Linked DNA regions of Homo sapiens: all the other regions are linked to region 1. The links come from fine-mapping of genetic effects on gene expression. A gene starts in region 1. Each other region holds a variant in brackets. All regions are shown on one strand. Distances are between the middles of the regions.

What was found. PIP is the estimated chance that this variant, and not a neighbour inherited with it, causes the effect.
Region 2: its variant is fine-mapped to the expression of SP4 in prefrontal cortex (ROSMAP, PIP 0.95).
Region 3: its variant is fine-mapped to the expression of SP4 in whole blood (INTERVAL, PIP above 0.99).
Region 4: its variant is fine-mapped to the expression of SP4 in CD8 T cells (CEDAR, PIP 0.90).

The regions. Positions count from the first base shown.
Region 1 is chr7:21,425,384-21,431,463 of GRCh38, reverse strand. It overlaps SP4 (Sp4 transcription factor), which reads right to left and starts at 3,381. Exons shown (of 6, transcript NM_003112.5): 1 at 3,206-3,381; 2 at 2,672-2,787; 3 at 621-2,175. The coding sequence starts at 3,212. RefSeq lists silencers at 3,088-3,677, 4,058-4,447.
Region 2 is chr7:21,496,456-21,502,535 of GRCh38, reverse strand. All of the region lies in intron 5 of SP4 (Sp4 transcription factor), which reads right to left. Among named protein-coding and RNA genes, the nearest start is that of MIR1183, 28 kb to the right of the region's middle. The variant TG/G (reference allele first, on the strand shown) is at 3,456.
Region 3 is chr7:21,511,681-21,517,760 of GRCh38, reverse strand. It overlaps SP4 (Sp4 transcription factor), which reads right to left. Exons shown (of 6, transcript NM_003112.5): 6 at 2,939-6,080. Among named protein-coding and RNA genes, the nearest start is that of DNAH11, 28 kb to the left of the region's middle. The variant A/TTTA (reference allele first, on the strand shown) is at 3,230.
Region 4 is chr7:21,465,589-21,471,668 of GRCh38, reverse strand. The region is part of intron 3 of SP4 (Sp4 transcription factor); the gene reads right to left. It overlaps MIR1183 (microRNA 1183), which reads right to left and starts at 611; the gene lies at 523-611. The variant CTT/T (reference allele first, on the strand shown) is at 2,434.

The sequences.
Region 1 (6,080 bases):
GGATTATTCATTCAAATCCTGATAGTAGCATAAAAGTAGGCATAAAAGTTAACCAAACAATTTACAACTTAAAATTATCTCTCAACTGCATCAGTATCTAGTTTAAAACCAGTGTAATAAAACACAAAAGCATGGGCGACAAGATGCTGAAGCTTGAGAAATAACTTCCACTAAAAAAAAGTTAGCCTTATTACACCACAGAATTAAAAGTTCAACAGACTCACAATTATATATACCAATTCAGTTTAAAACTACTTTCCCTCAAAGAAGAGATAAATATCATTTCGACTAGGGTTCTTTCTGAAGAGCTGGAATGTACTCAAATAAGACCACTAAATTACAGAAGGCAATTATGATTCTAATCAGAAAGCTCTGTCCCATAAAACAATACTTTTTAAAAAACTAACAAATTTAACACATTATTATAAAATCTACAAAAGTGAACATGTCACATTGATTACTACAGAGCTATGTTTGTTAGTATAATATTGCTATTTCTGGTTCCTTATGATTGTGTGTTTACTTCAGAGGTCTACGTCAAACCTTAGAATTAGGAGAGAAAAGCAATAATTGTTATGAAAAACTATTTAAAAGGTACTTAAAAAGATGTCAGAACTTACCTGCAACACTAGTGATTGTAACGGGAACTCCCTGCACTTGAACACCTGCAGCACCCAGGTTGGCAACGCTCACTGTCTGAAGGTTAGGCACTGATGCAAGCTGGGCAGTATTCAAAGTTATTGGGGCACCAGCAACAGCCACAGGAGCAATCTGAGCAAGAGTTGTGCCACCACTTGAAGACACTGGGGTGATGGTTAATTGTTGGGATAACCCAGCATTCTGAACTTGCAAATTTGAAAGACTCTGAATATTCTGAACCTGTACAGTTTGCCAACTGATTTGCCCTGAAGGTGTTAAAGTTGGAGCCCTGATAAGCACCTGAGTCGGATTTACTGCTTGAAGTTGAACATTCTGTAAAGGCTGCTGCTGGATGGTCTGAATCGTCTGCCCTGACTGGAGTTGAAACGACTGTGGTGGAATAGCCTGAATGATCTGTTGCTGAGGCTGTTGGATCTGGATCTGCTGTAAGATAGGTTGGCCTACAATTTGCACCTGCTGAAGAGAATTTGATTGATCCTGTGCATTCTGCATTCCATTAGGCTGAAGCTGACTGGAGCTCTGGGCTTCAGACTCAGTAGCAGCAGGTGTTTGAGATTCTTCAATGGTGCGTTCAGAACTACTGGCTGATGTGCTTGCATACTGGCCAGTATCTGCTGAGCTCACTAATGTGTCACTGCTTGTCAAAGACGTTGAAGCAGTGGTTGTGCAGGTAGTGGAGGAGGAGGGAGATTCTGGCATAGTACTGGCAGAAGTAGTGGTGTTGGTGGGTGTGGAAACTAATTGATTCCCATTGGAAGTCCCACTATCAGCAGTAGCAGCAGGCTGGCCAACCTGCCCAGTCCCTCCTCCGGCAGCCACGTTGTTTATCACTGGCAAAGCTAGAGTCACTCCTCCAATGTTAATTGGTAGGGTTGTTACAACTTGAGCCTGAGTACCAGGAAGAGTCTGTAACTGCAGTGGTATTGAAACACCAGGTCTAATTTGGACCGGAACTGTCTGATTTGCCAGGTTTTGAGCAAGAATATTCCCAGAAGCTGTCCTGTTAGCAGCTGTGAGTATAGCTTGATTATTACCTGCAGAAATGAGCTGAATTTGACCCTGCAAATCCTGTAGAGATGAACTACTAGTTGGATTGATTTGAATTTGTTGACCTTCCACTGTCTGAAGTTGTGGAATTACTTGGTACTGTACACTACCACTTGGATTTTGTACTTGTATGACTTGAAATTGACCAGGGGTGGAAGAATTACCTGATTTAGTTTTTGTAGGAGATGCACTCCCGTTATTACTGCTGGAAGAACTAGACGAACTAGAGGCTGGTTGAGAAACGTTATTCTCTTTTGAAGCAGGAGGAGTGGAGGCAACAAGTTGCCAAGCGTTTCCAGCAAGTTGCGTTGTTACCAGTTCTAGCTGTTGTGGTTGATTTTGAAGTTGCACCAATCCTTGACTTGGATCTATAATAATTTGTTGTTGTCCAGTTGCTTGATTTTCACCAGGAGTCCCTATTTTGCTGCAAGTAGCTGCCAGTAAAGCCAGAGGAGAGGGCTGAGAGTCCTACCCAAAATGGGACGGTAAAGGAGAGGGGGGGGGGAAAAAAAGTGGGCGGATTTAGTGGAGGCCAGTAGTTGCCAGGGGGTTACTTATTTTGACAGCTCTACATAACAATTTAGGAAGCAGCAGAAATCAAAAAGAAATACGAACAAAAGTAGATAAGAACTATATGAATAAGGAAGCAAGTCCTATAATATCAAGTTTAAATAAAAGGAAATTTCTTTACAACTTTGTAAAGTGTTATGTTCCTAAACTCAAAATGCCCTTGGGAACACACACACCGTTTTCTTATAGTCTGAATTCCTGATGTAATTTTAAACAGCGTTATACCCTCAAAGAGGTGAAAACTTGATGAATTTACAATTTAAGTTCCACACTCTCAGAAAGATGCTTTGAGTGGATAAACATTTTATTCTGTTACTTCTGGACATTCAAAGGGCATAACTCCCTCTCTCTCCTAATGTGTCGTGATGAATTTTTTTAATTTGTTTGCTTTTACCTGGGAGCCTGAGGTTTTGGGTTTTTTATTGTTATTCTCTGGCTCAGAGGTTTTCCCTCCTTCTGTAGCCATCGCCGCTGCCGCTGCCGCCTCCTCCTCCTCCTCCTTCTTCTGATCTGCAACAAACCCCCCCACCACACACACACGACAACAGGTTATTAGGATTATTATTATTCGTCTTCTTCCTCTCCTCTTCTCCCCCCTCCCCCCGAACATTAATCTCCATAAACCCGCGATCCACGCACACCGGCAGGGGGTGGGGGAGAAGGAGGGAAGGGAGGAGGGGGATATCACAAAACGTGGTTTGAAACCCGACCCATCGGCTCCAGAGCAACACCCAGAAGGAGGTTGTTCTCTCTCAGACATTAAGACAAAACACAACCCTCCTTCCCTCCCCGATTCCCTCCCGCCCTCTCCTCCTCCCCTTAAAGCATCTCAGCGGCCCCGGGGGAGGGGGGAGAACCGAGCAGGGTCTGGGGAGGGAGGGAGAGAGGGAGGCGGCGAAGGAGACTGAGGGGGGTGGAGAATACGTACCGCTCATCCCGCATTAACAGGACAAACCCTCAGACGGAGACACTGGGATAGAGGTGGGTGGGGGTGGGGGCGAGGCGGGAGGAGAGGCCGGTCCCGCCCGCCCGCGGTGGCTCGGAGGAGGCTGTAGCTGGCACAGGCTCTGCCTCTTTTTCCGCGAATGGCCGCCGCTGGGCTGTGGCGTAGCAGCTCCTCTCTCCGCCCGAGCCCGGCTGACTCGCCCTTGATTGACAGCGGCGGCGCGCGGCGCGGGCGGCGGCGCGGGTCGGGGGCGGGGCCAGGGCGGTGCGAGCCTGGCCGACTCCCCACCCCCCTCGGCCTCTCTCCGCCGGAGCCTCCGACTCTCCACCCCTTCCCCCAGCGGATTGGCCGCCGACCTGCCGGGGGCCGGGGCGCTGGGGCCGCCTCCTCTCCACCCCCTTTCTCGGGGTTATTCCTTTAGCAGCTCTTCTCCTCCTCCCTGGCTCCTCTGGCGCTCTTTCTCTCGGCGTTCTAGCTCAGGAGCGCTGCCGGTAGGCCCTCCATACAGCCAAACTTGTTGTCTCAGGATATCCCGCCCCCTACTCATTTCCCAGCGCCCTCCACTCAAAAACCCCCTCCAGCAATCCCTCCAATTGCCACTAAAGAAAAAAGTAGGGCCCTTGATCCAGGCAAGCGAGAGCGGCGGACGTGGGCGCGCGCGGACCACCAACAGGTCGGCGCGCTGGGTGAACTGCCCGCTGCCCCCGCGCAGGGAGCATGGCTTTCCTGAGGCGCATCCGGACCCGGGCGCCCTTTTTCCCTGGCTCTGTCTCCATTGGCTGAGCCCAGGGTGACGCGCGCTGAGTGGTGGGAGAAAGGGGGTGGGGCACTACCGCGAAGGCTGTCGGTACTCGTAGTTTCCGGCGGTCGCGGTGCCTTCTTCGAGGCACCGCCTCTCTCCCGCCCCCGACCGAGGCCTGGCTGCCGAGCGGAAAGCTGCCCGAGGGGGCGGTGGCGGCAGGGCGTGGCCGGGGCCGAGTGGGAGTTGAACTGAGCGAGGAGGAGGGGGAATGGGTGTTGTTTGCCTGGGCCTATCCGCCGCGCGGGGCTGCCCAAACCACCTCTGCCGCCGCCTCCTCGGCTCCAAGCCGCTCCCCGCGGGGCGAGCTCACACCCGGAGCGCTCGGCGATTGAGCGGGCGGCGGCGTGGGGAGGCGGGGTTTGCTGTCCTCGGGGTTTGAATGAACCCGGCTTCTTGAAGCAGCGCCCTCGCCTTGCCTTTCTTTGCTCACCTTCCCCTCAGGCCCCCTGCTTTGAGTCCGAGGCCTGTTTTCTCACGGAGAAGGATCTTCCATTTTTATTTGTTGTCTCTCTGGCTGGCAGCTGGTGCAGAGCAGTGACCCGCCTTCTAAGAAGGGTTGCATCGCGTTTTGCCTAAAAGCCTAAGTGGTTGGCGGAGTTCTAAGCCTTATCTGACAAGAGTCTCCGGGCGAAGAAAAGCCCAGCTCCATAAGGGTCAGCCCCGCTTACGGTGTAGCGTAAGCAAGCGTAAGGGCAAGTGGAATTAACATCTGGCTGCACAAAGCATCTTACTGTCAAATGCACTTGAGCAGTGTCCTGCCTCAGCTTTCCTACAAAGTCCTGAAGTCAGGATGATGCCATGGAACGTAATCAGCGCCTGATTAACTGTACCAAAGGTGGAAGTGACCCCACATGTAAATACTGGCCTTGGGAACAAGGCATGCTTACACCCCAGGCTCAAAGCCATTGTCTCACTTCTTACCTGGGCTTCACACTCAGCCTTGGGCATTTTTGTCTCCTGCCTGAGGCCTGACATGTTGCAATGGTGAGGAGGTCCCAGATGCTGAACTTGACTGGCATTTCCTTTGCTTGTTAAGGTAATTGCAAAATCAGCTGATGACAAAGCCATGCAGCAAGACAAAGCAATTCGAATAAAGAATTACATGGTATTGTCTACCCCATCTTATACAATGAGCCAGAGATCCCTGAACAACGTGCTTTTTCCCCATCGTGTACAATATAGAAAGCTCAAAAGTGCTTCTTACATTTACGTATATACTGTCTCTATCCTCAGGTCCCCTCCTCCTCCCAGTTCACCAAGATAAATGAAGACATTTTGCAGTCTTATGAATTGGGGCTTTCATTGTCGTTTTCGTTTGGAAAACCTGCTTCAGAGAGGCAATGTCACTGACTCTGAACCATAGATTAAAAATAATGCTTCGGGAGGCCGAGGCGGGTGGATCAGGGGGTCAGGAGTTTGCGACCAGTCTGGCCAACATAGTGAAACCTTGTCTCTACTAAAAATACAAAAAATTAGCCAGGTGTGGTGGTGTGCGCCTGTAATCCCAGCTACTCGCGAGGCTGAGGCAGGAGAATCGCGTGAACCCGGGAGGTGGAGGTTGCAGTGAGCTGAGATCACGCCATTGCACTCCAACCCCGGGCGACAGTGCAAGACTCCGTCTCAAAAAATATATAATAATAATAATAATGCTTACCATCAGTATGAATCTGCAAAGTCCTAAATATTCTCCACCCTATAGATAAGTGGGAATACTGGTATCCATGAAACATAAGTCCTGCTTTTTATGGTGGACCAAAGTCTTCTAGTCCCTGGCTGTTATGGACTGAATGTTTGTGTTCTCTGCCCCCTTCCCCATTCATGTGTTGAAATTCTACACGGGGCGCGGCTCACTCCTGTTATCCCAGCTCTTTGGGAGGCCAAGGCGGGCGGATCACTTGAGCCCAGCAGTTCCAGACCAGTTTAGGCAACATGGTGAAACCCAGGCTCTACAAAAATTAGCCGACGTGGTGGCGCTGTCCTGTAGTCCCAGCTTCTTGTGAGGCTGAGGCGGGAGGATCACTTGAGCCCAGAAGGCGGAGGTTGCATTGGGCCAAG
Region 2 (6,080 bases), 71 kb before region 1:
TACTGATCCTGAAGTAATGTGTTGCATGTTGGCTCTATACCGAGACAAGGATGCATGGGAAAATGAGACTTGTAAGAGTCTGTCATTGCTCTTTCCCGCATTGTGGAGAGAGGTCAGAACCCCTCATTCTCTACAGGGAATATGAACTACTCCTCTTGCCTCTCCAGGCAGGGGGCAGAGTTCAATAAGCCCATGGGAGAACTCTCAACTTGTACCCACATCCTAAGCATCACAGGTTGAGTCAGGCAATGGCAATTACTCAGCTCTCCATACACCACGGCTGATGTCTGGTGGTACTGTGGGAAAAAAGGATGATAAGTTGTTACCGTCCAATTGGACTGGGACTTGTGCTTTAGTCCAGTTGGCCATTCCCTTCATCCTGGTATTCCATAAGATACCCGAAAATACACACGGCTACCAAAACCGGAGAGATTTGACGTATCTTTTGATCCCAATATATATGTTAACTCTATAGGAGTTCCGGGGGGGGGGGGGTGCCTAATGAATTTAAGGCCCGAAACCAAATAGCAGCTCGGTTTAAGTCAGCACTCTTCTGGTGGTCAACTATTAAGAATGTGGACTAGATTAACTACATCTATTATAATCAACAGAGATTCATCGATTATACTCGGGACATCCTCAAAGGGGTGGCTAGCCAGCTAAATGCCATCAGCCAAATGGCCTGGGAAAACAGGCTTGCGCTAGACATGATACTAGCAGAAAAAGGGGGCGTATGTGTTATGCTGGGTGGGAAATGTTGTACTTTCATTCCCAACAATACTGCCCCAGATGGGACCATCAGAAAAGCTTTACGAAGACCAACAACTCTAGCCAATGAACTGGCAGAAAATGCTGGAATTGATGACCCATTTATGGGTTGGCTAGAAGATTGGTTTGGAAAATGGAAAGACATGGTAGCCCTCAATCCTTACATCTCTCATAATTGTGGCAGAAGTCTTAACAGCAGTGGGATTTTTGTATTAACCCTTGTGTGGGGGGACTAGCACAGAGATTAAAACAGCTATTAATAAACAAATGCCCATGACTTAACCAGCAAAATAACCTGGTACTATTAGAAACAAAATTAAACTCAATCTCCTATGGAGAAAGTAAAAGACTTCTAGAGCAATTCAAGGACAAAAAGGATTTAGATGAAAATGAGACCGAAGGAAGTAAACAGAAAAGAGGAGGGACTTTGTGAGAAAATGTTTTAAATGATCTATTTTCAAGGCATGATAAATCTAAATATACTGGCAACCAGCCTGCGGATGTAACAAACTGCACGGCTCACGCACCTAGAAGGTCACAATGAGCAAACAGAATGTAGAGAAGGGGTCAGCCCATAAAAGCGAAGAAAGTTTCATTATTGGGAAATCGAAACTTAAGCAGGGAAGGGAAGATTACACCCTTATTAGGGGGATAATGAAACTTGGATGATGTCCGGGAAGATTGTAACCCTGTAATACTCGACCTATGAGGAACTAGGGGAGGGATTTGCATGCTAGGAGGTAAATTAACTGCTGTAACTGCCCTGGGTGTGCCTGCCTACCATACGCCCCATCTTGCAAGACCACCATTAAAAGTCTCGCTTTTGCTGTTCTTTGTGTCTCCAAGTGCAGTCTTTGGGTTCAGACAGGCGAATGTGTGTTTCCCACATTAAGTAACATGGTAAAAGGGACTGTGCAGATCTAACTAAAGTTATGGAGCTTAATATAGGGATATTATTCTGAATTATCCAGTAGTGCGTAATGTAATCACATGAATTCTTAAAAGCGAAGAGCTTTCTTTAGCTAGAATCAGGGAGATTAGAATAGTGAGGGGAAACGTGCCCTGCTGTTGCTGGAGGGGGCCACATGGACAGTATGAGAAGGAGTGTGGGCAGCCTCCAAGTGTAAACACTGGAGGCTCCCAACTGCCAGCTGGCAAGGAAACAAGGACCTACATTCTACAACAGAAAGGAACTGAATTTAGCTGACAATTCAAACGACTTTGGAAGCAGGTTTCTCCCCAGGGTCTTCAGTAAGGAATGCAGTCCTGCCAAAGCCTTGATTTTGGCTCTGTGAGAAACTGAGCAGAGCACCCAGCTGAGGCCCCTTGAACTCCTGACCTAGAGAAACTATGAGGTAATAAGTGTGTGTTATTTTAAGCGGCTAAATTTGTGGTAATTTGTTGTGGCAGCAATAGAAAACTAATCTAGTTACATATGATATAACCTTATAAAAAATTTAAAGCCCAATAAATTATAGCTGACCTAATATATGGCTCAAGATATGTAAAACATCTTCATTACAAATATCCAAAGTACGTCAAGAACAAATTTCAAATTTCATTTCTTCATGAAAATCTCAATGTATCCCAAGAAATTTTTAATAAACTGAGTATAGGAAAAAAAATGCTCCTTTTGCCTAGATTATCTAAGAGAATACCATGCTTTATCACATTAAGAAAATGTAGTCTTTTAAAAGGATTTAAATACAATGTTCCAGAAACTACATTCGACTACTTACTATTTTAATATTCTTAACAGTAATTTCCCTTGGAAAAAATTTGCTGAGATTTCAAATGGAATGATAGATTGGAATGGATGAGTGGAATAAACCAGATCTTTTAAGCTTTCTGTATCTGAAGCACCTATCAAGAGTCAGTTATCTAACTGTCAGAGTTCTGCCTATAATCTGTTTTTCAAATTGCTACTCTCAAAACTAAGCTATGACAATGTATGAAACATACTTTTTAAATTACTAATGCTATTTCTAAGTTTGTCATTTGATAATATACCTCCATATTTATAAATTAAAATTAATTTCAAGAGCAAATTAAGGTAATATATTAGTTTCCTCGGGCTTCTATAAGAAAATACCACAAACTGGGTGGCTTAAAACAACATAAATTTATTTTCTCACAGTTCTGGAGGCCAGAAGTCCAAAATTAAGATCTCAGCCCAGCCTTGCTCCCTCCAAGGACTCTAGAGAAGAGTCCTTTCTTGCCTCACCCTAGCTTCTGCTGACTGCTGGCAATCCTTGGCATTCCTTGGTTTGTAGCTGCACTGCTTCAATCCCTGCCTTTGTCTTTGCCTGGACTTTTCCCCTGTGTCTTCTCCTCTTATAAGGACATCAGCTATTGAGTTTAGGGCCCACCCTAATCCAGTATGGCTTCATTTTAACTTCATTTCATCTGCAAAGACCCTATTTCCAAATAAGGTCACATTCACAGATACTAGGATTAGGATTTAAACATATCTTTTTGGAAGAAACAATTCAACCCACTAAAGGGACATTTTTAAATGTGTGGCATTTAGAGACCGTAAGACCGATCCTTTCTCTTCCTCCTCAAATTCCTACGTAATTTGAATACAAAGATGAAGACCTTTATGAAAACCCACTTCCACATAATGAATAGTAAATATATTCTTTCTTCCTTATGATTTTCTTAACAGTTTTTTTTTTTTTTTTTTT[TG/G]AGACAGAGTCTTGCTCCATCGCCCAGGCTGGAGTGCAGTGGCGTGATCTCGGCTCACTGTAAGCTCTGCCCCTCAGGTTCCTGCCATTCTCCTGCCTCAGCCTCCCGAATAGCTGGGACTACAGGCCGCCACTGTGCCCAGCTAATTTTTGTATTTTTTTTTAGACAGGGTTTCACCGTGTTAGCCAGGATGGTCTCGATCTCCTGACCTCATGATCCGCCTGCCTCGGCCTCCCATAGTGCTGGGATTACAGGCGTGAGCCACCGCACCCGGCCTAACGATTTCTTTTCTCTAGTTTACTTTAAGAATCTGGTTTATTATACATATAACATGCAAAATACGTGTTAATTGACTATGATCATTAAGGCTTCTAGTCAACAGCAGGCTATTAGTAGTTAAGTTTTAGGGGAGTCAAAAGTTACACGCAAATTTTCAAATGCTTGAGGGTTGACTTGCCTCACCTCTGTGTTGTTCAAGGGTTAACTGTAATCATTTTTGAATGTAAGGACTCAAGTTATTCAAACTGAGAGCCATGTAGTTCCTGAAACACCCCTACCTTACTCCCAGTCTATCAGTCCCTCCTACACTCTTTCTTACCTACGCGGCCTAGAATATCTAAAGTCTTTTCATGAGTACCCTACATTTTCCAGTATCATTTACCTGGGGGTAAAAGTAGATAGTTGCCCTTGGTATACACTAGGATTGGTCCCAGGACCCCGTAGATCCCCAAATCATTTGATGCTCAAGTCTCTTATATAAAATGGTGCATACAGTATTTGCATATAACCTACACACATCCTCCCATATACTTTAAATCATCTCTAGATTACTTTTATGACTAATATAAATAGTTGTTATATTATTTTTAATTTGTATTATTTTTTACAGTTTTTATTTTTTCAAAAATTTTCAATCTCTAGTTGGCTGAATCTGAGGATGAGGAATCCACATATAAGGAGGGCTGGTTGTAATAAGGGGGGAAAGATGATAATTTGAGAGAAGTCATGCTTTAATTTTCTTTAAGTAGAAAACTGAGAGTAAGGCGAGGTTGAAGGGGAGTGACAAGGGATATAAGAAGACTTAAGGAGGTTTAGATAATAATTAAGTTAATGAGAAAACTGACAAAGACGACTAAGATTGATAGGCAGTTCTGAGAAACTGGTTGAGATTTGAGACCATGAATTTATAGGGACACCAATCTGCATAATGAGTGATTTTTCATTTTTTCCTGTAGCAATTATCAACTCAAATATAGAAGCTCTTTGGTTATTTCATTATAAATGCTTTATTTAGGCTATTTAATCCACTTTGTTTTAACTATCATCTATAAATAGATGACTACATCAAGATCCAGATTCCGAAACTCAGCTGTGAATTAGACATTTCCTGGATGTGCCACAGACAGCATCATTCAACATGTCACAAAGAGAACTCATCAACACAAGGATCATTCTAATCCTTATGATGCTTCAGAAAGAAAGAGGGGGCAAGAGCAAAACCAAGAAATGATGTCACTGACCATGGTGAAGAACCTCCAAAACTTTGCTCTTCCATAAAAGCAACAAAAACCTATGGGAAAAAAACTGTCAAAAGCAACCATTTCAGATTCTGGCAATTAATCAAGGCTTGCAGCAATCCATGGAAGTGTTTATTCAAGAAAAATGGCTGAATTTCTGTAAGAACAGCAAGCTTTGTAGTATTTTAACTTACTAGTCTCATTTTCCACTCCCCACCTCTGTGGCAGCCTTGAAAAATAACAGCCTGAATTCTTGGCACCATCTGGCAGCCACTAGAGGGGGTGGAACACAGCTGAGGCTCTTTCAAAGCCTAATTCCCAAATAATCATTCCCTGAAGACTCCACTTATAAAACTGTCATATTTAATCTGACTCTGTGAAGTAGCCCCATGAGAAATGCCTTCTCCCAGATGTAAGGCAGGGCATGTGTTTGTCTAAAACAATTAGAAGCAAGTATTTTAACTTCATGGATGCCCAAGACAGGGGATAATAATTGGGACAAACAATAGACTAACCAAAAGGCTTTAAAGGAAAAGCTAGCTGAGAGCTAAGAGATTCAGAAGAGCTTTAAAAACCTGTGACATATACACAGGAATCTAGAAGGTCATACATGTTTAGAAGGTCACACACGTTTAGTGCTGTGAGCCTGCTCAGAATAGCATGAGAAGGCCCTAACTAATCTGTGCCTAATCCTGAGGCTCTAGGTAAGCAGAAAGTGAAGGCTAAGGCAGAGATGTCAAATGACTGGCTGAGTGCTGAAGGCAAGCTGCAACATGCACACAGAACCTTTCAGCACAGGCTGAGAGACTCATTAGTTCCAAGGTGTTTAAAGAAAGAATATTTGAAAAATAGGTAAAAACTTCCCCAATTTGAAAAAAAAATAAATAAATAATAATCTGCATATCCAAGAAGCTCAATGAACTCCGAGTAGGTTAAATGCAGAGAGTCACATCGAGTCACATTATAATCAAACTGCTGAAAGACAAAGACAAAGAGAAAATCTAGAAAGCAGCAAGAGTAACTACATTTAGAGCCTTGGAAGACAATTAGCCTCTTGAGCCTTCAGTTTACTTATTTATGAAATGATGGGGTTGCACAAAATAATTT
Region 3 (6,080 bases), 86 kb before region 1:
AAATCATCCACACATAAACCCACAAAAGTTAGTGAACAACACATGAGCAGCTGTTTCTGTTTTTCAGTAATTGGTTTGCTTCTTGTTCACCGGTGTGCTTGTCTGTTATCACTTTGAGGTAGGCAAACAGTAATTGTAATTAACATTTAAAAATTAGGAATTAGGCCAGGCGCAGTGGCTCATGCTCGTAATTCCAGCACTTTGGGAGGTGGAGGCAGGCGGATCGCTTGAGCCCAGGACCAGCTGGGCATGGTGGTGTGTGCCTGGGTGACAGAGTGAGACCTTGGCTCAAGGGGGGGGGGGGAAGAAAGTAACTAAGATTTAAACCTTTTATTTTTCTTAGAATTGGAAAAAGACTGTCATAAAATTTTGAGGTAGAGTATGGCAAAGTAGCTCACAGTTTGAGAAAAATATGTTTGAATTTGGAAATTCCCACTGAAATTTCATTTTTAAAATGGGATTTGAGAATTAACTTTTTGATGTATTGTTGCCCATTTTCAAGACATTTCAGCATTGGTCCAGGTGGGAACTATTCCATGCCCCCTGCTATGGTCTGAGCAGTTGTGCCCCCCAAAAATTCATGTTGAAACCCAATTACCAATAATATTACCAGTGATATTAAGAGGTGGAACCTTTGAAAAATGATTAGATCATGACAGTAGAGCTCTCATGAATGGGATTAGCGTCATTACAAAAGAGGCCCCAGAAAGTTGTCTTGTCCCTTTCACCATGTGAAGACACAGCTAGAAGTCACCATCTATGAACCAGTAAATGAACACTGAATCTGCCAGAATCTTGACCTTGGACTTCCTAGCTCCGAAGTGAGAAATAAATTTCTGTTGTTTATAAGCTACCTAGTCTAGTTTATCTTGTTATAGCAGCCCGAATGGACTAAGACACCCGTCTGCCTTTTGGGTTAACTTATAATTAACAATAATAACGTATTAAACACAACTATGTGTTACTCAATATAGTTTTCTTGTTTGATCTTAACAGACCTATGTATTATTCATAATGCTTAACATTAATAAGCATTGCTCTTTTATTCTATGAAGTAGAAAAAAATAAGTGCTTAAAAGTTCAATAACTTGCCCACGGTTGTGTGCCTACTAAGTGGCTGAACCAGGAATCCAGCCTGAAATCCTCAGACTCTCCGTTGATCTCTTTTGGCACGGTGCTTAGCTATTAACCAGGGAGATCAACCCACTGCATTATAAATAGGCCTTTATGCTCCTTTTCCTTTCCTTTCTCTCTTCCTTCCTTCCACTATTTCTGCTTGACATTACTCTCAGGTATCCAAAAATAAATTATTTCATTGCCACCTGTTACTAAGAGGAACAGAGCCCAAGGTTTATGCTAATCAGCCAATCTTAAAAGAATGGAAAATACATGCCTTAAAAGTCCTGCTACCGAATTACAAGTTGGTTGTGTGTATATTAAGCAGACATTACTGTTCAGGCAGTAAATATAGCAATATATTATTCAGTTTCACAAAGGAATAAAGTATTTCAAGTTTGCTGTGACACTTGAAGTCTCTGCACCCCTGAAATTAAGCATCTGAACTTTTAATTAAAAAATAAACAATACTGTATATTTTTCTATTTTCAAGTTGTCATTACCAATGGCATTGTAAACCACACCCTATTAGTATTGCTTTTAGCACTGCTTCAGCTTTCCTAACTTACTACACCAACAGCTTTTGTCAATTTTCAAGGTGATTTATCCCTTTTTCTTTATTATTGTCTTTTTCATGTGGCTGAAATTTCTAGAAGTACAAGAAGCAAACTATATTAAAAATTGAAAAACACAATGACATTTTCTAATTGCATTATCCTTTTTTTTGAGACAAGAGACTCGCTCTGTTGCCGAGGCTGGAGTGCAGTGGCGTGATCTCAGCTCACTGCAAACTCCACCTCCTGGGTTCAAGCAATTCTGCCTCAGCCTCCCGAGTAGCTGGGACTACAGGCGCACGCCACCACGCCCGGCTAATTTTTGTATTTTTAGTAGAGATGGGGTTTCACCATGTTGGCCAGGCTGGTCTTGAACTCCTGACCTCGTGATCCACCCACCTCAGCCTCCCAAAGCTCCGGGGTTACAGGCGTGAGCCACCTCGCCTGGCCTGCATTATCCCCTTTTATACGATATCATCCTGATGCTTTCTAATGCGAATTTTTCAGGTAATTGAAGTGTATCTTTACTTTGGATAGAAAACATCCTTTGACAATTCCTTACTGTCTTATTTGACAGAGTAGCATAAATTCTTTGATTCAGTCAGTGTTATGAACACATTATTTTACAAAGTTGTAACACAACTATGCCTTTAGGACCTTGCTGTACAAGGTTCTCTGTCCAAACACCTTGTAGCCCCTGCTTACTACCTAAAACCTAGAGTCTTTGGAGTCTTCTGTCAGTGGGCCAGCGTACTTCTCTTGCTGCCTAACATCCTACCTCCGCCACCCTGGGCCAAACCCTCGCTTTGCTATGTCTATATCTGGTGTGAGTCTGGAAATGTGTTAGCTGAAGTTGTTACAATAATGTATTCATTATGTTACTAAAGGTCTTCATGAGATTTGCAGGGCTCTCCCAGGAGGAAGACAGTTTCTGCTTGTAGTCTTTGTGGCATCTATGTGGCCTATATTGCTTCTCAGTGATTCTGTGAGCTTAAATAATATTTTAATTATGTTTTTCGTTTTCAGGTCTTCCTATAATTTCCTAACATTGATTGCTTAAAATATTTAAGTAAAAAGTGTCTCTAAATCAAATTTTAATTTCCATAAATGTCTAGAGCAATGGCTACAAATTAACATGCAATTTGAATTGGAGTTCTTTGGCGGTATGTTCAGAGAAATGGTGACCAGATCTCAATACGAGGAATTACGAACGGTGGCCAATGTGTTCTCCAGTGAGAAGCATTTAACTCTCCAGTGTTCATGATAAGTAGGTTGATAGTTCAAATAATTTATTGCTGCTTTATAGTATACATAATTAAATGAAACATGTTAAACTCAAGGGAATTTTTAATAGGTTACTTGCAATTGTTATTGCAGGCAACAACTTGTACATGATTTTATTTCCAAATCCACAAAAAACAAATTTTATACAAATCAGCACTGTAAAAATGTCAATTACAGCCCCAGAGGCTTTGCTGGCAGAATAATTGTCTAAATTCTAGAATATGGGAAACAGGTTTTTTTCTGGATTCATCTTTTTTTTTCATTTTTTTTTTTTT[A/TTTA]CAAAAAAAATTTACAAGTGAAATGTTACTACAAAACTTTTTATAAGGAATTTTTGCAAAACATTTACATTTTACCATCAACTATTTCTGTTTTAAAATCATTATGTAGATTTAATACCCTATGCTGCACATCAATTTATGTGGGATGACAACTTAGTGACATGCATAAAAAAACACCACAAGGCATTAAAATGGAGACTTAAATACAAATATTGTTGCAATAAAACAGTTATAAAATTGAAAAATAGGACCTAAACATCATGCTTATCTAAGTTTGACAAATTAACTTTTTCTCCTAGATTACACACTTTTATTACTGCTCTCATGAGAGTGTGATAAATGACTTAACATCAAGTTCTAATGTAATCAGCAACACATACACAAACCTAACCAAAGAAAGTATACTGTAAGAAAAAACTATTCTAACACTGGAGTTTTACCATGATAAATACATAGCTTTGCACTGATAATTACAATAAAGAAAAGTTTTATAACGGTGGTAAAGGGAATGAACAGTGAAATGCCATTAAACAAGACTCTACTGCACATCTGTGCCCTATTACTTATAACAGCTATATCCCACTGAGTCAAATAAAGGACACTGAAATTTACGATTCTTCTAAAGACAGAAAAGTAGACTCAGAATGGTATGCAGAACAGACTGTCAAAATATTTCTAATTTCAGTGGTGAAATGTGCACCTGCTAACACAAATTAACATATTTTATATGCTATAAAGCTATCTAGATTCATCTGATAAATTTATAATAGGCCTCATTGTTGATTAAAAAATAACTTCCATTTCTAATGGACATACATAGGTTTGCATTAGAACTGGTTCATGGAATAATGATGCAGAGTGTTCATACTTGGTATTAACAACAACAAAAAGTGTCACTCTGAGGAAACATGATTAAAACATTAAGAAAGTTTCTTTGCATAAAAAAATTTATAGCACTGATTGTGTAGCATAATGATAGATAAAATATATATTTGATGTTTCAGCTCCTATATAATAAAATTAAAATGAACACTACCAAATGCTCCTCTGTACCAAACAAAACAACAAACCAATTCTGATGTTTTAAAGCCAGATACATCAGTTGTTAAGAGTACATTAAATAAAATATACAAAACAATTTACAAAATCCAACTTAAATTTAAAGACTCTGTTACAAGTCTACAAAAGCTTTAAGAAACTTGAAATTTATAACCACAGTGTAAAAATTTTTTTTTTCCTTTAATCTCAAAGCTTTTTTATACAAACTGAAAGCACAAAAGACCTTCAGTTTTATATAACGCTACAAAGGGCTGGCCTAAAGTGTACATAGTGTAAACAGTGATCATTACAGTATTTCTCCTTCATCAAAAATACAAGAAACATCACAATTTTGGAAGAGAATTCGCATTAGTACTTTTCCTGAAATTATAGAGAATGCACAAGAAAACACGTACCTATATTCAAACAGTCCCCAAAGCAATGATGTTAATAAATTGAGCAGGTAGGTAAAAACTTTTAGTTTTCAAATGGTCAATTTCACTGATTATGATTCTGTGTAAATACTTTTTTAAAACATAAAATATCCTTATTAATATTTAAGTTACTGGTTTATAATCCAATTTTTTTCATATGAAACTTTTGGCCATCTTTCCTAGTAAGACCCTTTCCTAGCCGGGCATGGTGGCTCATGCCTGTAATCCCAGCACTCTGGGAGGCCGAGGTGGGCAGATCACCTGAGGTCAGGAGTTTGAAACCAGCCTGGCCAACATGGCGAAACCCTGTCTCTACTAAAAATACAAAAATTAGCCAGGCATGGTGGCAGGCGCCTGTTAATCCCAGCTACTCAGGAGGCTAAGACAGGAGAATCGCTTGAACCTGGGAGGCGGCGGTTGCAGTAAGCTGAGATCGTGCCATTGCACTCCAGCCTGGGCAAGAGAGCGAGACTCCATCTCAAAAAAAAAAAAAAAAAGACCCTTTCCTGTAAGACCCTTGCATAAACAATAATATAGTTTTTTTCTTTAGTCACTTACTTCACTGAAAATTATTCTGCCTTTTCAAAAATAAAAGTTTTGCTTCATAATATATCTATTATATATTAGGCTAATTTTTAGGGAAAATTCAGTTATTGATGTAACATAAAAACATTACTGTGTTATAATTCCTAATTACCTTCTTACATAGCACTAGAAATAAAATGGGACTGGCCAATTTTTAGTAGAGGAAAACAAGAATTACAATGTAGTTAAAAGAGAATTTTCTGCTGGCCTTGGAAAAAAGTGTAATTCTTTCTTTGGCTACCACATCAAAGCATAAAGAATTCTGCACATTGTCAACATAACTCATATTTACAAAATATGAAACTACAGAACAATTTACACTCTATGCAAATATTTCCAAATATAAACATTTTAAATGAAATTTTGTGGTTCAACCTAGGGTTAGGAATATAATCAATCCTAACTTTAGAACATTGCATGTTAAGATGCCTCATTTTATTTTTCTGAAGCTATGATGAGTTTTGTTTTAACCATTTTTTTCCCAGCATTTTCCTAAGGTGTCAACCTAAAATTTAACCTAAGATTTAACTCTATGTTCCTCTTGTGTCTCCAAATGGAGAAAGTAATTGGACTTCACTGATTGTCTGCATACACACTACTATAATGTAGTGGTAATAAAGATCTGAGATGCATCTCAGATTACTGTTTTGGAACTTACCTAATTCAACTGTTGAAGAATTTCTAACATTTAGAAAAGACGGCCAAACTATTTTCGGTTGATTTTCCAAAAATCAAGCTAAGGAAATACAGTATTATCCCTATCATCAGTTAACTATCTGTTTTCTGTGCTATAG
Region 4 (6,080 bases), 40 kb before region 1:
AGAGATTATGTCTCACTATGTTGCCCACGCTACACTCAAACTCCTGACCTCAAGTGATCCTCCTGCCTCAGCCTCCCAAGTAGCTGGGACTATAGGCACAAGCCATGGCACCCAGCTTACTGTCCCAATTAAGATGAGAAAACTAAGGTTCTCAGGGGTATGTAAAACATCCAAGATCCTAAAATGGAAAAGTGACAGAGCTGGGATTTGAACCCACACTTATCCAACTCAAAAAGCTATTCTCTTTCCACCATATACATTATCTATGTTGATCATAAGTCCCTGTTAAGTCTACCTCTTCAAAATATCTCAAATGTCTCCATTTTCACCATACCTATTGCTTGTACACTAGTGCAAGCCCTTATCACCAGTTTTGCCCCTTCTAATATTCATATTGCAGACCTAGCTCCCCAAAAAGCCAATGGGCCCTCCATACATTCACAATAAGGTCAGTATTTCTTAGCATAGTACATAAAGTTCTTCATGATCTAACTCCTGCTTAGTTTTATAACTTCATCTCTTGGCACTCCTGCTCCATGCCCACTCTCACCATCACCTACAGTGAACTCCTGTCTTCTCTAATGTTCTGTGTCTCCGAGCATTTGAATAATATAGCTGGAATCCAACACATTCTCCCACCCCAAACCTCCATCTCCCTTGGTCTGACAAAAGTCTATTCATCTTACAGATTTTAGTCTTTAATCCTTCTTACCAATGAAACTGCTTTGTAAAATAATTTTTTTAATAACTCAAAATTTCTTGGTATTGTAACTACACATTATGGTGAAACAGACTGAGGATGGCCGTTCTTTTATTTTTCTTCCACATTACCAGAGGTAAAACATTCCAAGGCTGCTTGGAGCAGCCAAGCCATCTTTCTTATTCCTTTTTTGTTCTGCTTTTTTTTTTTTTTTTTTTTCCAAATATAGAAACTGGGCCAAGGTAATGGAGGGGGACAGTTTGTTGGTAGGTAGTAAGACATCTGAATTGCTAACTATTCAACAAGATCTAGCTTGTTGGACATTTCTTGCTCATTTTCTTTTAGTACCAGTAGTTTTTTGCCTTAGTAGAGTAGTAAAATTTGAGACGACTTGAATTTAAGCTAACACGTAGAAAGGAAAGTCAGGTTTAGCTGGTAAAGGAAAAAGGCATATTCCATATAGAATAACCTAGTTCTCTGGATTGTGAGGCAGGGGCCTATGCCTAAGCCAACAAATTCTAACTTGAATTTTGGTATACCTAGCTCCCTAAGGGATCTCAAGAATTGGTTGAATTAGAATTTAAGTATTTCTGGTCTTACTAGTAAGACACCATCTCACTCCATCATAATATTAGTCATAAATTATTTCCAACAAAAGCTGCTCAAGAAAGAGGCCATCTGTGTGGTTTTTATGTCATTTGTCCTTTGGCTACCAAGGTTCCTGACACACTGAAAGTACTTAATGAATGTTTCTTAAATAAAGCGAATGATAATCTAAAATCTATACAAACATAGAAGCTTTCTTACGAAACTCGGCCAGCAGTATATCACAGGGCTGCTAAATGACAGCTAGTTTACAATACACATGCACATGGGTGACAAGACAGTAAGAAACCAAATCAAGTGGATATCTGCTACACTTCCTCCCTGACTCACTGATATGGCAGTCAGATCATTTAGAAGCAGATCCCAGAGCATAACTCTCAACCTTGGTTCTGAAACTATGTACTACTCTCTCAGGTATCAGATTTCTCCTATGACATTTGCTATCTACATTCAGCAAGGTGTTTTTTTTTTGAAAAGAGTATTATAAAAATATTAACTCTAAAAAATTATAGGCCCAGCATGGTGGCTCATGACTGTAATTGCAGCACTTTGGGAGGCCGAGGTAGGTGGATCACAAGGTCAGGAGTTTGAGACCAACTAGTCCTAGCCTGGCCAATATGGTGAAATCTTGTCTCTACTAAAAATACAAAAAAATTAGCCGGGTGTGGTGGCGGGCACCTGTAGTCCCAGCTACTTGGTAGGCTGAGGCAAGAGAATCACTTGGATCCGGGAGGCGGAGGTTGCAGTGAGTGGAGATCTCACCACTGCACTCCAGCCTGGGCGACAGAGCAAGACTCCGTCTCAAAAAAAAAAAAAAAAAAATTATAACTAAACTTGCCATTTAGGGAATAGGCTAAGATTTCTCCCTTTCTACCTATTTTGATGAAAATAAATAGTTTAGTATTACAAACACATACACTTTAAGTTTCTTTTTCTTCTGATTTTAAGAACAAAGCATGCTCACCATAGAAAACTATGAATGAGGAAATGAAATCATCCAGAAAGTAATTACCCATAGATTACCACTATTATCATTTTGATGTGATGATCTAAGTTCTGTTTTAATCTTTGTTCAATGTATTTTGATGCTGATACAACTTTACTATATAAAAATTCTGTATTATCCT[CTT/T]TTACTTATTTAGTAATATAAGTACTTCTAAGTTATTAATATTACAAATTATTTTAATAGTTGTGCAATATTTCATCATATACCATAATTTACAAAGCCATTACTGTACTGTTAGATATTTATTTCCAAATACTTATTATAAGTAACATAAAGTAATGAGCAACTTGAACTAAAATATTGTTTATTATTTCCAAGGGATAGTCCTAGAAGTGAGATTACTAAATCAAAGGACATGAAACATTTGTAAGACTATCTAGATTATAAAATTACAGGAGTATATATAAAGAGCTGCATTCATTTACATTTCCACCAGAAGTATGGGAGAATGCTGTTTCATCTCATGGAGCATGAGAAATTCAGTAAAATGTATAAAATCATTTAATAAACAAAAAATTGGATATCTCACTGTAGTTTCTAATAGAAGTGATTACTGCTCTCACCTCTAATACTGTACATTTCCTTAAGGTCTAAGCCAATGTAGTAAGGCAAGAAATAACAGATCTATATAAGAAATAAAGACTTAAAAGGAAGTAACGAAACTGTCATGATTTACAAAAGATATAATTATATTACTTAGAAAACTATAGAAAAATCAACAAATTATTATAATATGACATCTGTACATCAGCGAGATGGCCAAATACAAGAGCAACATAAAAAAGCAACAGTTCCCAACCATATCAGCAACAAACAATTGAAAAAGAAAAAAAAAAAATTCCATTCATAATAGCAACAATAACCACAAATATCTGAGAAATCAATCTAATTAGTAATATGCAAGATCTTGAGGAAGATTTAATAAAGGATATAAAACAAGACCTCAAAAGAGAGAAATATATGTTCTTGGATAGGAAGAATCATTAAACTAAATGTGTCAATTCTTCCAAAATTATTCTAGGAAGTGAATGCAATCACAAATTTAATTCGAAACTTTTCCATGAAAGTCTGCTAATTTGACATGTGAAAAATCAGCTAAGAAAAGTCTGAAAAAGCAGAATAGTAGAATAAAGATATGTAGGTAGCTACAGTAATTAAAATAAGGTGCTGTTAGCTTAGGAATAGGGACAGAAATGAACACAATTTAAAACAGATGCGTGTGTGTACACAAAATAATCCAACTGTGCCTTATTTCTTCTTTTGGAAAAGACGATTTGCAAGGTTTTTTCTTATAGTAAATAGTAAGTAACATTACTCTGTAAGTAAGACAGATCCGCAAATTTGAAAAACAAAACTATTTATCTATCTACCTATAAATAAACTCACCAACCAATAAACTGAAATTGACCTATTTAATAATAATCATACAGCAGGTTCAAAGTACATGTGTTTCTTAATTATGTTTTGTGCATATAACCTAGGGAACAAGGTTTTCTAATATAACTGATCAGGAAAAACAAAAGCTGTTGATTTCTATGATACAAAACTTGCCATGGGGGGCAGTGGGATTTTTTCTGTTCTGAATAATACTAAAATGATTCTTAACTGAGCCTACCTAGATTGACTTCCTTTACAGATTAAACTTGGAATCTGCCTAAGAAAATGTCTAAGGTCCTCTCAAAAAATATGTCTCCTAACATTGCAAATAACTTTCAATAAACACACTCTAAAATAGGATTTGGTTTACATAATGATCTGACTTAAAATAAGCAAGCAGGATGTATATTCCTAAACATAAAAAGATAACCAAATATGCTTAGGGCTGGGGAGGATAGAAAGGAGAAATGGGGAATGACTGCTAATAAGGGTTTCTTTATGAGGTCATATAAATGTTCTAAAACTAGATTGTGGTGATAGCTGCAAAACTCTATCAATATACCAAAAGCCATTGAATATACACTTGAAGTTGTTGTATAATATGGTATGGATATATATAAATAAAGTTGTTTTTTTAAAGGTAACTAGATTTAAAAAAAAATTTTTTTTTAATTCTACTTTTGTTGGCTCTAAGTACCTTTAAGCCAGTGGTTCCCAAATGAAGGTAATTTTGCCTTCCAGGAGATACTCAGCAATGTCTGGAGACATTTTTGGTTGTCACAAAGTGTGAGATTACTGGTATATAGTGAGTAGAGGCCTGGGATGCTGCTAAACATCTTACAATGCACAAAACAGACCCCAAAAACAAAGAATTACCTGGCCTAAAATGTCAATAATGCTGAGATTAAGAAATCCACTGAAACTCAGCACTGGAATAACTCAACTAACATTTATGCCTCTCATTCATATCATTATAAACAGCTATAACAAAACATATGAAAAATTAAAATATGGTACATTTGTGTGATCCCTATAAAAACTACATGAGTCTCCACAAAAACAGAAACTATATGACTGAATTAAAGCCTTTGAAAAGAGAGCTACATACATTTGGGAATAGGCTGTGACAGTTTTGACAGACATATGACTAGAGAGATTCCATGGTACACTGGTGGTAAAAAAAAAAAAAATCCTAGATTTGAAAATTATGCTTATTAATTACAAAATACTTCTTTGCCTTATGGAAGAGCTTCAATGACATGTTTTCCTGTAGATGAACTATAAATGAAAATATTAAGAAATAACCGAGTACCTTCTGTATCTCTTAAATGAAGGTGAACCCCATTAGCCAATGACTTCCAGGACTATCAACATACTATGGGTTATGTACAATCTGTGAACCAATATTGAGTTACTGAACAGGCGCAACAGTTTAGTAGAGCCGAAAGTAGAACTTTTGGGTCAAGCAGACCTGTTTCTGAGTTCTGATTCTCCCTGCAGTTTCTTCCTTTGAGGACCTGGGAGCTGTGGGAGTTGACTGAAATAGTGTATATAGCACACGTCTTAGCATAATGTCTGGAATATGATAAACACTCAAGAGGAATGTTAACTCCAGTAAAACAAACTGCAAATGTATTAAGTACAAATACTTAACAGCCATTCACATTTCCTTAAGTCCTAGCACTTTGGATGTGGACTTAGTATAGAAGTGAGATTTATTCATACAGCAAACTTCTACTGAGTACCTGCTATGTGCTTAATGCTGCTGGAGAAATGATAAATAAGATCTGACCAGAAGCCCTCACCTGTAGGGAAGACACACTCAAATAAATAATTATAATATGCACAATAACAAAAATGTGCATAAAATGCCTACTTAACAGAGAGGACAGTGATTTACTGTCAAAAAGAAACAATGAAGGCTTCACAGAGGAGATGAATCCACTGACAGGTGGAAAGAATAAAGGCAAATGGGAAGGCAGTGGGAAGGCTATATTTAAAGACATAACCCTGAGACAGCATACCACTGGAGATTAAAGTTCAAGGAGGTGAGGGGGCTAAAGATAGGGTTGGAAGGATAGATCAGGAAGGGCCTTAATTAAACCTTTTTTTTTTAAGAGACAGGGTCTTGCTCTGTTGCCCAGCCTGCAGTGCAGTAGTGCAATCATAGCTCACTGTAATCTCAAACCCCTAGGCTCAAGCAATCATCCCGCCTCAGCCCTCTCCAGTAGGACAACAGGCAAGTGCCACCATACCCAGCTAAATTTTTTATTGTGACAAGGTCTTGCTATGTTGTCCAGGCTGTCAACTTCTTAAAGAAGGGACTTTCTAGGGTAGGAGAGAGGGAATCCTTGTTAAGGTATTATGCCCATCCTTCCCATCCCCAATCCA